3 linked regions of the Homo sapiens genome follow. The protein of the gene in region 2 purifies or fractionates together with the protein of the main gene of each other region. This does not show direct contact. Each region holds a gene or a part of one and is shown on either strand. Other genes may lie near its edges.

Evidence for each region.
Region 1: the proteins of IKZF4 (region 2) and EPB41L5 purify together in Homo sapiens (affinity purification with mass spectrometry; one large-scale study listed by BioGRID and IntAct). This does not show direct contact.
Region 3: the proteins of IKZF4 (region 2) and ZNF225 purify together in Homo sapiens (affinity purification with mass spectrometry; one large-scale study listed by BioGRID and IntAct). This does not show direct contact.

Annotation. Positions count from the first base shown.
Region 1 is NC_000002.12:120,086,066-120,089,719, reverse strand, and holds part of EPB41L5 (band 4.1-like protein 5), read right to left. Parts: intron 2,550-3,654; coding exon 2,480-2,549; intron 1-2,479. UniProt on the Homo sapiens protein: Plays a role in the formation and organization of tight junctions during the establishment of polarity in epithelial cells.
Region 2 is NC_000012.12:56,024,041-56,027,694, reverse strand, and holds part of IKZF4 (zinc finger protein Eos), read right to left. Parts: exon of another isoform or gene 2,700-3,654; coding exon of another isoform or gene 2,642-2,699; coding exon 2,537-2,641; intron 915-2,536; coding exon 654-914; intron 1-653. UniProt on the Homo sapiens protein: DNA-binding protein that binds to the 5'GGGAATRCC-3' Ikaros-binding sequence. Transcriptional repressor. Interacts with SPI1 and MITF to repress transcription of the CTSK and ACP5 promoters via recruitment of corepressors SIN3A and CTBP2.
Region 3 is NC_000019.10:44,119,769-44,123,422, reverse strand, and holds part of ZNF225 (zinc finger protein 225), read right to left. Parts: intron 1-3,654. UniProt on the Homo sapiens protein: May be involved in transcriptional regulation.

The sequences.
Region 1 (3,654 bases), on a different chromosome or scaffold from region 2:
TTCCTAAACATCAAAAGTTATATATGAAGATGTATATTTCCTCAGTCTCATTTATAATAGTAAAACTTGGTACAAACCCTAAACGTCCAAAAAAAGAGAAATGGTCAAGTAAATAGAGGCATATGTAAAAAATTATGCAGAGGGATAAATGAATAAATGATGAATGAATGAATGTGCTATTGTTTATTCATATTACACAATAGCATATATATATGTTAGATCTACATAGGTACACGTTTAGATAAAACAGGCAAGCTGCAAATATATATAATTATGCAAGTTTTTAAAACAATTCTAACATGAGTTAATATTTGGAAAAAGTTACAAAATATATATGAGAATAATACCCTCCAAAATTGGTGACCAGGTACCAGAAGAAAGGGGGTAGGTAGTCAGGGGGTTAGACTTTAGTTGGTATTATTTATTCATGCACATAATTGTATTTATCTTTCTCTAAAAGAGAACTGAAGCAAAATGTAAAAAATGTTAAATCTAGATCATTAATAAGATGGTTATCTATTTTATAATTTTTGGTACTTTTCAGGTTATTTAAAGACACTATTAAGACAGTAAAGATGGATACGCTAATTACCCTGATTTGATAATTACACATTGTATACATGTATCAAAATATCACTCTGTATGCAATAAATATGTACAATTATTATATGTCATCTAAAAATAAAAGTGGTGGAAAAAGGGCAAAACAAGGAGTAGACGATACTTGCAACACTAATATCTGACAGAGAATTAATATCCAGAACATACAAAGAATTTTTTCAATGACTAAAAGGCACATGACCTAATAGAAAAATAAGCAAAAGATTTGAGTAGGCATTTCATAAAGAAGATATCCACATATCCAATAACTACACAGATAAGTACTAAACCAGAGTTGTCATTAGGGGAACACAAACTAAAACCACATTCTACTCCACAAGAATGGCTACAATGAAAAAGACAGAATTCCAAACATTAGCAAAAAAGAAAAAAAACACCAATAACATTGCTGGTGGGAGTATAAACTCGTATTAAATACTTTGGAAAGAGGTTTGGCAGTACCTACAAAAGCTAAATATACATACACCTTAGTGTTCAGAGCAGCACTCTTTTTTATTTTTTAACTTTTATTTTGGGTTTGGGGTACAAGAGAAGGTTTGTTACATAGGTAAACACGTGTCATGGTGGTTTATTGCACATGTTATTTCATCACCCAGGTATTAAGTCCAGTTATCTTTCAGTTAGTTATCTTTTCTACTCTTCTCCCTCTTCCCACCCTCCCCACTCAAGTAGATCCCAGTGTCCGCTGTTGCCTTCTTTGTGTTCATAAGTTCTTATCATTTAGCTCCCACTTGTAAGTAAGAGCATGTAGTATTTGGTTTTCTCTTCTTGCATTACTTTGCTAAGGATAATATCCTCCAGCTCCATCCATGGTCCCGCAAAAAAGATCTCATTCTTTTTTATGGCTGCATAGTATCCCATTGTGTGTTTAAAACAGGAAAAGTATAGCAGTCAAATTACTGAGCAGAGGAAAATGAAAGAACTGGATTCAAAAAAAAAATTTTCATCGTTATAAAAATGTTTAAACATACAGAAAAACTGAATACCCATATACATAGTGTCTAGACTCAACAACTGTTAACATTTTGCTCAAACTGCTTTTATCTGTATCTGTATGCATATGTTAAAATTTATTAATTTGCATAAAGTAAAATTCTTCTTGCCTTTTCTAAAGTATCAGATAAATGGAGTCATTCAATACATAATTTTTTAAATCTGGCTTCTTGCATTAAGAACAATGCATGTGAGTTGCATCCAAGCATGTATCAATTAAGAACCACACTGTAACTGATACAAAGGTAATCTTTAATTCAAAAGGCTTTATTATTATTAGGTAGATCTTTTTGATCAGTTAATAAAGAGATAAAGTTGGTCTGCCACAATGGTTTACTCCTGTAATCTCAACATGCTGAGAAGCTAAGATGGGAGGATTACTTAAGGCCAAGAGTTTGAGAGCAACCTTGGCAACATACTGAGATCCCATCTCTACAAATAAATGAAAAAATCAGCCAGGCGTGGTGGTGGCATGTGCCTGCAGTCCCAGCTACTCAGGAGGCTGAGTGAGCAGGAGGATCACTTGAGCCCAGAAGGTGAAGGTTACAGTGAGCTATGACAGTGCCACTGCCCTCCAGCCTGGGTGACTGGCTGGCTCACTTAAATGTAATTTTTTATACACCTCAGATATACGATCAATGAGGAAACAAGAAGACACTTTTATATTATTTTTCATCCTAAGGGCAGAAAACCATATTTTTAGCATGGTATGACCCAAGTAAGGAAATTATTTAAAGCATTAATTATACTGTTTGCATTCTGTGGCTCTTTAAAACAATGAGGTACATTCCCTCTTTTAGAGAAATAAGTTACCACATAATACAGTCACTGTTACACAAGTAATAGAATATAATTTTATTCCTACCTGATCATCATCTTCTACAACCACCAAGGTTAATTTATTCTTCTTAAAATCCAATCTGGTTATCTTCGGCCTATAATATAATAAGAGAATAAAAGCCAAATTACAAACAAATGTTCTCTAAATATGAAAAAAATTGTTTTTATTTCAAATACATTTAACCATCTAACTCCTGAACTAAAAATTGACAGGACGGTAAACGTAACTTGCAATGCCCATCAAAAGACAGGAAACAGAAAAACACAGTACATATTTCAAAAGCAAATCTCAGACAAAATTGAGGTTGCACATATCAGACATTAAAAATGTTAAGGAAAATGAAATCTATGTATTTGATAGGTCTCGATTATGGTGTAAGAGATTCTTTAGGTCTAGGGAAAATTGTTCCAGTGTTAAAGCAGAGCAGCAGCATAGGAACTAGACATAGGAACGACCATAAAGCTTAAAAAAAACAGCCATAAAGAAAAACACTGACGATGGTTTTCAACTCTTTTTGTTTGTTTGAGATAGGTTCTCCCTCCATTACACAGGGTGGACTGCAGTAGTGTGTTCACAGCTCACTGCAGCCGTGAACTTCCAGGCTCCAGTAATCCTCCTGCCTCAGCCTTACTCCCACACCACACCAGGCTAATTTTTGTATTCTTTGTAGAGACGGCATCTCGCTACGTTGCCCAGGCTGGTCTCAAATTCCTGGGCTCAAGTGATCCGCATACCCTGGTCTCCCAAAGTGTTGGAATTCAGACGTGAGCCACTGCAACCAGCCTCAACTCTGTTTTCAACAGGAATTTTGGGTAGAGGAAATACTTCTTAATTTTTTTAACCTCGCTTTATGGCCCGCTTTCCAACTGTATCTCCCTACTTGTAAATTCCAAACCACCTACCACACATTTGAACTCTGTATTTCCATAAATTGTGAATGTCGAAACAATGTGACACTCCGATTGACTAATCTTTAAATATAACATATAAAATAGATGTAAAACATAACTTTACAAGAGCTTTACTAAAACAATAATGAAGAAATAATAGCAGGAAAAAGAAAGGAAACAGAATCTCACTCTGTCACAAAGGCTGGAGTGCAGTGGCGTGATCTTGGCTCACTACAACCTCCACCTCCCAGGTTCAAGCAATTCTCCTGCCTCAGCCTCCAGAGTAGCTGGGATTACAGGTGCGTGCCA
Region 2 (3,654 bases):
CCCAAGGGAAGGTGCTCTGAACACATTGCTGACGGGCAGAAGTGCAATGCACACAAACCCTGATTTATGAAGATCCCTTGGGGATCCCTGGGGTCTTACCCTGGGGAAGGTGTGGATTAGAGGTGTGTGGCAGGGAGAGGGGCCTGGAACACGAGGCCAAAAGACTGTTACCAAAAACTGAGCCCCACAGGGCCCACTCTGCCCTAGGAGCCCAAGGCCCAAGGAAGCTGAGAAGAGAAGGCTTTTGTTTTCTGTTTTGTTGTTGTTGTTGTTGTTGTTGTTTTTTAATTATTAGATGGGAGGGCCCAAAGAATACCCAGGAGTCTTACCCCTATTGGACCATTGGCTCATTCTTGAGTCTACACTTTCCCCTCCCTCATATACTGAGAAAAATATCACCTTTTCTTTATAACAGCGGTTGAGGAGAGTGCCAGGAAACTAAAGGTATTGAGGGGAATTCAAATTCTGTACCCACCCCCACCCTGCCTCGTTTTGTCAGCTGGAAAATGTGCTGGGTGAGACCCTTCCCTTTCTGAGGCTACCCACTCCCTGCATGACCTCCTCCAGCCCCATACCTGCTGTTGTCCCAGCACTGCCCCTGCCTCTCAACCCCACCCTGGGAGCTCCTCCCAGAGCCCCTCTGGCTTACTTACCAGTGTGACTGCGCTTGTGCACCATGAGCACGTTGGGTCCAATACAGACCATGCCGCAGACGTCACACTTGAGCTTGCCATTGGGCAGCCGGATGCCCCCAGGGGAGTGAGGCTCTGGCCCACTCCCATCACAGTAGCCCAGGGGCTCAGACAATGAATCTTCCACAATCACGCTGTCGTCCTTTTCCAGGAGCCGCTCATCTGGCCCCAGCAGTCTGCTTGACTCCTCATCGCTGTACATCTCCACCTTGATGGAGTTGGCTGAGGGGTGGGATGGTGTTTAGAATAGAGAGAGGCAAAGGGGGAAGCTGCTCCCAGGCCAGAATGGCACTCTTTTTTTTTTTTTTTTTTTGAGATGGAATTTCGCTCTTGTTGCCCAGGCTGGAGTGCAGTGGCACGAATTTGGCTCGACGCAACCTCCACCTCCCAGATTCAAGTGATTCTCCTGCCTCAGCCTCCTGAGTAGCTGGGATTACAGGCATGTACCATCACACCCAGCTAATTTGGTATTTTTAGAACAGACAGGGTTTCTCCATGTTGGTCAGGATGGTCTCGAACTTCCAACCTCAGGTGATCTGCCTGCCTTGGCCTCCCAAAGTGCTGGGATTACAGGTGTGAGCCACTGCGCCTGGCCCAGAATGGCACTCTTAAAGTTTAAGAGGGTGTCTTTAGGCCCTGAGACATTCAAGCCTTAAATGGAACTAACACCCTAGTATCCCTGCTGCTGATATCAGAATCCTACTGGAACCTGAGACAACCTTTTCTCCCACCCACCAGGCAAATAGGCTTCAAGAGAAAAAAGTTGGGCCGGGTGTGGTGGCTCACGCCTGTAATCCCAGCAATTTGGGAGGCCAAGGCGGGTGGATTCTTTTGAGGTCAGGAGTTTGAGACCAGCCTGGCCAACATGGTGAAACCCTGTCTTTACTAAAAATACAAAAATTAGCTGGGCATGGTGGTGTACGCCTGTAATCCCAGCTACTTCGGAGGCTGAGGCAGGAGAATCGCTTGAACTTGGGAGGCGGAGGTTGCAGTGAGCTGAGATCACGCCACTGCAGTCCAGCCTGGGCGACAGAGCAAGACTCCATCTCAAAAAGAAAAAAGTTGGGGGTACATAGGATGTCTTCTGTCGCTGAGGAGAGGAGGCGACTAAGGGGAGCTTTTTTCTCTACTCTCTTGTCATGAAGAAAGATGTCTGGCTTGGCCCTGGGCAGGAAGCCAGCAAGTTAACAGTGGCGGGAAAACAGATCTAGGAAGACTGAAGGGGGACAACAGGCCAAAGAGAGCAAACCTGGAAGACAGACATGCTTACAGTTCCCTCCCACCTCATTAGATTGAATCCCTCTACCCCCTCCACCTCCATAAAACTCTGAGGCAGGGCAGGAGGGGTAAAGGAAGGAGGAACCATTGAGGAGAAGGCTTTGGCTCTAGCTCCGACCTACATTCCTGGCTACTCCAACCATTTAGAGAATGTCACAGATCTAGGGCCAGCTGGGGAGAGGCAGTCATGGGGACCCTGTCTGGGTAGGAGAATGAGCTGTGGGGAGATGGGGAGGTCCTTCTACTCTCTATTTCCTATCTAACTCCATCTGATGACCATTTCTATCTACCTGCTTCTCTAATTCCATAATTTCTCTTTGAAACTTTTACCTTAATCCCACCCATACCTCTTTTAATTCCACCCTAGTCTGCCAGTGACTGACTATTCACTCTCCTTTCAGAAGCCAGAAAAACCCTAGACACTGGGCTCCTCATTGCTCTTAGAGACTAAGCAGGAGACCAGCAGGAGGTGACGATGGGGAAATGGTTGCCAGTGGAAGGTGAATTGAAGGCCAAATGCAACAGGGGGTGCCTACTGCCAGGAGGTGGTAGGAGGTTACACTTACCACTGAGTGAGCGGCTAGGAGAAGAGTGCTGGCTGTTGGGGGTGCTCACCGAGGGCCCCACTGGGGCCCCGAGGAACTCCTTCTCCAGAGATGAGTCCCCGCTACCTTGGAGGAGAGAACAAGAGGGCAGGTAAAGCTGGAGCTGGAGATATCTACTGTCCATTGCCTAATCTTTTAAAAAAATTCAGTTAAATTTCACAAACATTTCCTTCATAGCCATGTACAAAGCAGTGTTGTATGCTGGGCACCATACCTTGTGCCCCCGCCAGTCTGGATGCCTGGTGCTGCCTTCTGTGAGCTCAGTGGCTGGGCCTTGCCTACCCTACCTTTATCTAGGCCTGAGGGCAAGAGCATCACTGCCTGACGTCCACAGGAAGCAGGGCTGAGGCTGGGTGCGCCAGGGCGGAGAGGAAAATGGGGGCTGCAGAAGGGACAGATGTTCAGGACAGACATTCTTCCCTACTGTTCCTCTCTGGAGCCCCCAGCCGGTTCAGGATCTGCAGGAAAGGTAACTGGAATTGTCCTTGAATCTAATGATAATATTAGTAATCATCATAGCAGCTAATAATATTAATTGAGTACTTACTATGTGCCAGGCTTTATTCTGTGCACTTGAAATGAATAATTTCATTTAATCCTCACAACAACTATATGAAGTAGGTGCTAATATCATGATTTTTTCAGATGAGGCAACTGAGGTACAAAAGAGGTTATGTTAGTTGTCTAAGGTTACATAGCTGCTAGTGTGGAACTGGGATCATAGACAGTAAGCGTCCATGTCCTTAACCAGCACCTACACAGCCAATTGGTGGTCACAATCTTAGTAGGGAAGAATTGGGCCTCTTAGACTTTCTAAATTCAGCAAAAATTTGATTACTCTAGAAAGTCTCCTACTGATCTGATTCCAATCACGTGTTTACTATTTGATATTCATTGACAGTTAAGTGATCAACTTATTCTCAGTATATTTGTTTTAATTTTCTGATAAATTGCTTTGTAAAAATGCTTTTTGAGGCTTTCATAATGTTTTTCAAAATCAGATAACATACCTAAAGGAAGATATGAATGTCTTTTTTAAAAAAATCCCTCCTCCCCACAATCTTCTACACAAATATATA
Region 3 (3,654 bases), on a different chromosome or scaffold from region 2:
TTGATGCTAAAATCCTTAACAAAATACTAGGTAACTTAATCCAACAACATATCAAAAAGATAATCCATCATGATCAAATGGGTTTCATGCCAGGGATGCAGGGATGGTTTAACATACCCAAGTCAATAAATGTGATACACCACATAAACAGAATTAAAAATGAAAATCACTTGATCATCTCAATAGATGTAGAAAAAGCATCTGACAAAATCCAGCAACGCTTTATGATTAAAACTCACAAAATCGGCATACAAGGGACATACCTCAATGTAATAAAAGCCATCTATGACAAACCCACAGCAAACATAACACTGAATAGGGAAAAGTTGAAAGCATTCCCTCTGAGAACTGGAACAAGACAAGAACATCTGCTCTCACCACTCCTCAACATAGTACTGGAAGTCCTAGCCAGAGCAATCAGACAAGAGAAAGAAATAAGGGGCACCCAAATCGGTAAAGAGGAAGTCAAACTGTCACTGTTCGCTAATGATATGATCATCTACATTGAAAATCCTAAAGACTCCTCCAGAAAGCTCCTGGAACTGATAAAAGAATTCAGCAAAGTTTCTGGATACAAGATTAATGTACACAAATCAGTAGCTCTTCTACACACCACCAGCAACCAAGCAGAGAATCAAATCAAGAACCCAACCCCTATTATAATAGTTGCAAAAAAAATCAAATACTCAGGAATACACCTAACCAAGGAGTCAAAAGACCTCTACAAGGAAAACTACAGAATGCTGCTGAAAGAAATCATACATGACACAAACAAATGGAAACACATCTCATGCTCATGGATGGGTGCAATCAATATTGTGAAAATGACCATACTGCTAAAAGCAATCTACAAATTAAATGCAATCCCTATCAAAACATCACCATCATTCTTCATAGAATTAGAAAAAAAATGCTAAAATTCATACGGAACCAAAAAAGAGCTCGCAGAGCCAAAGCAAGACTAAAGCAAAAAGAACAAATCTGGAGGCATCACACTAACTGATTTCAAACTATACTATAAGACCATAGTCACCAAAACAGCATGGTACTGGTATAAAAATAGGCACATAGACCAAAGGAACAGAATAGAGAACCCAGAAATAAACCCAAATCCTTACAGCCAATTGATCTTCGACAAAGCAAACAAAAACATAAAGTGGGGGAAAGGACACCCTTTTCAACAAATGATGCTGGGATAATTGGCTAGCCACATGTAGGAGAATGAAACTGGATCTTCATCCCTCACCTTATACAAAAATCAATTCAAGATAGATTAAGGACTCAAATCTAAGACCTGAAACTATAAAAATTCTAGAAGGTAACATTGGAAAAATCCTTCTAGACATTGGCTTAGGCAAGGATTTCATGATCAAGAACCCAAAAACAAATGCAATAAAAACAAAGATAAATAATTGGGACCTAATTAAACTAAAGAGCTTTTGCACAGCAAAAGGAACAGTCACCAGAATAAACAGACAACCCACAGAGTGGGAGAATATCTTTACAATCTGTACATCTGACAAAGGACTAATATCCAGAATCTACAACAAACTCAAACAAATCAGTAAGAAAAAAACCAAACAACCCCATCAAAAAGTGGGCTAAGAACATGAATAGACAATTTTCAAAAGAAGATATAGATGGCCAACAAACATATTTTAAAAAGCTCAAAATCACTAATGATCAGGGAAATGCAAATCAAAACCACAATGCGATACCACCTTACTCCTGCAAGAATGACCATAATCAAAAATCAAAAAAACAGTAGATGTTGGCATGGATGTGTTGTTCAGGGAACACTTCTGCACTGCTGGTGGGAATGTAAACTAGTACAGCCACTATGGAAAACAATGTGGAAATTCCTTAAAGAACTAAAAGTAGAACTACCATTTGATCCAGCAATCCCACTACTGGGTATCTATCCAGAGGAAAAGAAGTCATTACACGAAAAAGATACTTGCACATGCATGTTTACAGCAGCACAATTCAAAATTGCAAAATCGTGGAACCAACACAAATGCCCATCAATCAACGAGTGAATAAAGAAAACTGTGGTATTATATACAATGGAATACTACTCAGCCATAAAAAGGAATGAATTAATAGCATTTGCAGCAACCTGGATGAGACTGGAGACTATTATTCTAAGTGAAGTAACTCAGGAATGGAAAACCAAACATCATATATTCTCACTGATATGTGGGAGCTAACCTACGAGGATGCAAAGGCATAAGAATGAGACAATGGCCTGTAATCCCAGCACTTTGGGAGGCCGAGGCGGGTGGATCACGAGGTCAGGAGATCGAGACCATCCTGGCTAACACGGTAAAACCCGTATCTACTAAAAATATAAAAAAAATTAGCAGGGCATCGTGGCGGGCGCCTGTAGTCCCAGCTACTTGAGAGGCTGAGGCAGGAGAATGGCGTGAACCTGGGAGGCGGAGCCTGCAGTGAGCCGAGATGGCACCACTGCACTCCAGCCTGGGCAACAGAGCGAGACTCTGCTTAAAAAAAAAAAAGAGAGAAATGGACTTTGGGGACTTGCGGGAAAGAGTGGGAGGAGGGCGAGAGACAAAAGACTACAAATATGGTGCAGCATATACTGCTCGGGTGATGAGCGCACCAAATTCTCACAAGTCGCTAAAGAACTTATGTAACCAAATATCACCTATACCCCAATAACTTGTGGAAAATTTTTAAAAAATAAAAATAAAAACATAAAGCTCCAAGACAAGTCAGAGAGAAGGCATAATACTCAGTGTGGCCATAAAAAGAACACTTAGAAGTTTCCATGGGATGTAGGTGAACTGCACATACCTAAAAATAGTATCCCAACAAGGAATCCTAAGAAAGTTCTAATTAGATAGGCAGCCATCAAAAGACAGAAACATGTTCTGCAATAGCTCTCATTCACTCTAGTTTGTGTATCACTTATTAGCTATCTATCTCCATGATTCCTGGAGACACTGAAGTTCCCCTCATCCATTAATTTATTTATCAGGATAACAAATAATTAGATACCTGCCATGTACCAGAACAATACCTTCTAGCCTGTGAATAGACAGCCATGAGCAAAACAGCTAAAATTCATCCTCTTAGACATCACATTCCTGGGGGTAAAAGTGACAGGTAAACAGAAATATATAAGACACAGTGCAAGACAGCACAAGAAGAAAAAAATAGAACAGTGTTTTGTTTGTTTTTTTGAGACAGAGTCTTACTTTGTCACCAAGGCTGGAGTGCGGTGGCGCCATCTCGGCTCACTGCAACCTCCGCTTCCTGGGTTCAAGTGATTCTCCTGCCTCAGCCTCCCGAGTAACTGAGACTACAGGCACACACTACCACGCCTGGCAAATTTTGTATTTTTAGTAGAGATGGGATTTCACCATGTTGGCCAGGCTGGTCTCAAACTCCTGATCTCAGTGATCCACCCACCTTGGTCTCCGAAAGTAGTGGGATTACAGGCGTGAGCTACCGCGCCTGGCCTAGAATAGTATTTTAAATAGGGTGGTTGGAAATGGCCTCTCTAAAACTGAACAGAGACTTGAATATGCTTAAAGGAGAAGCCAGAAAGTTTTGAGGTGAAAGAGTATTCTGATCAGACAGAAAAGCAAGTAAGGGCTCTGAGGCAGAAGCTTCAGTAGTAGACAGAAC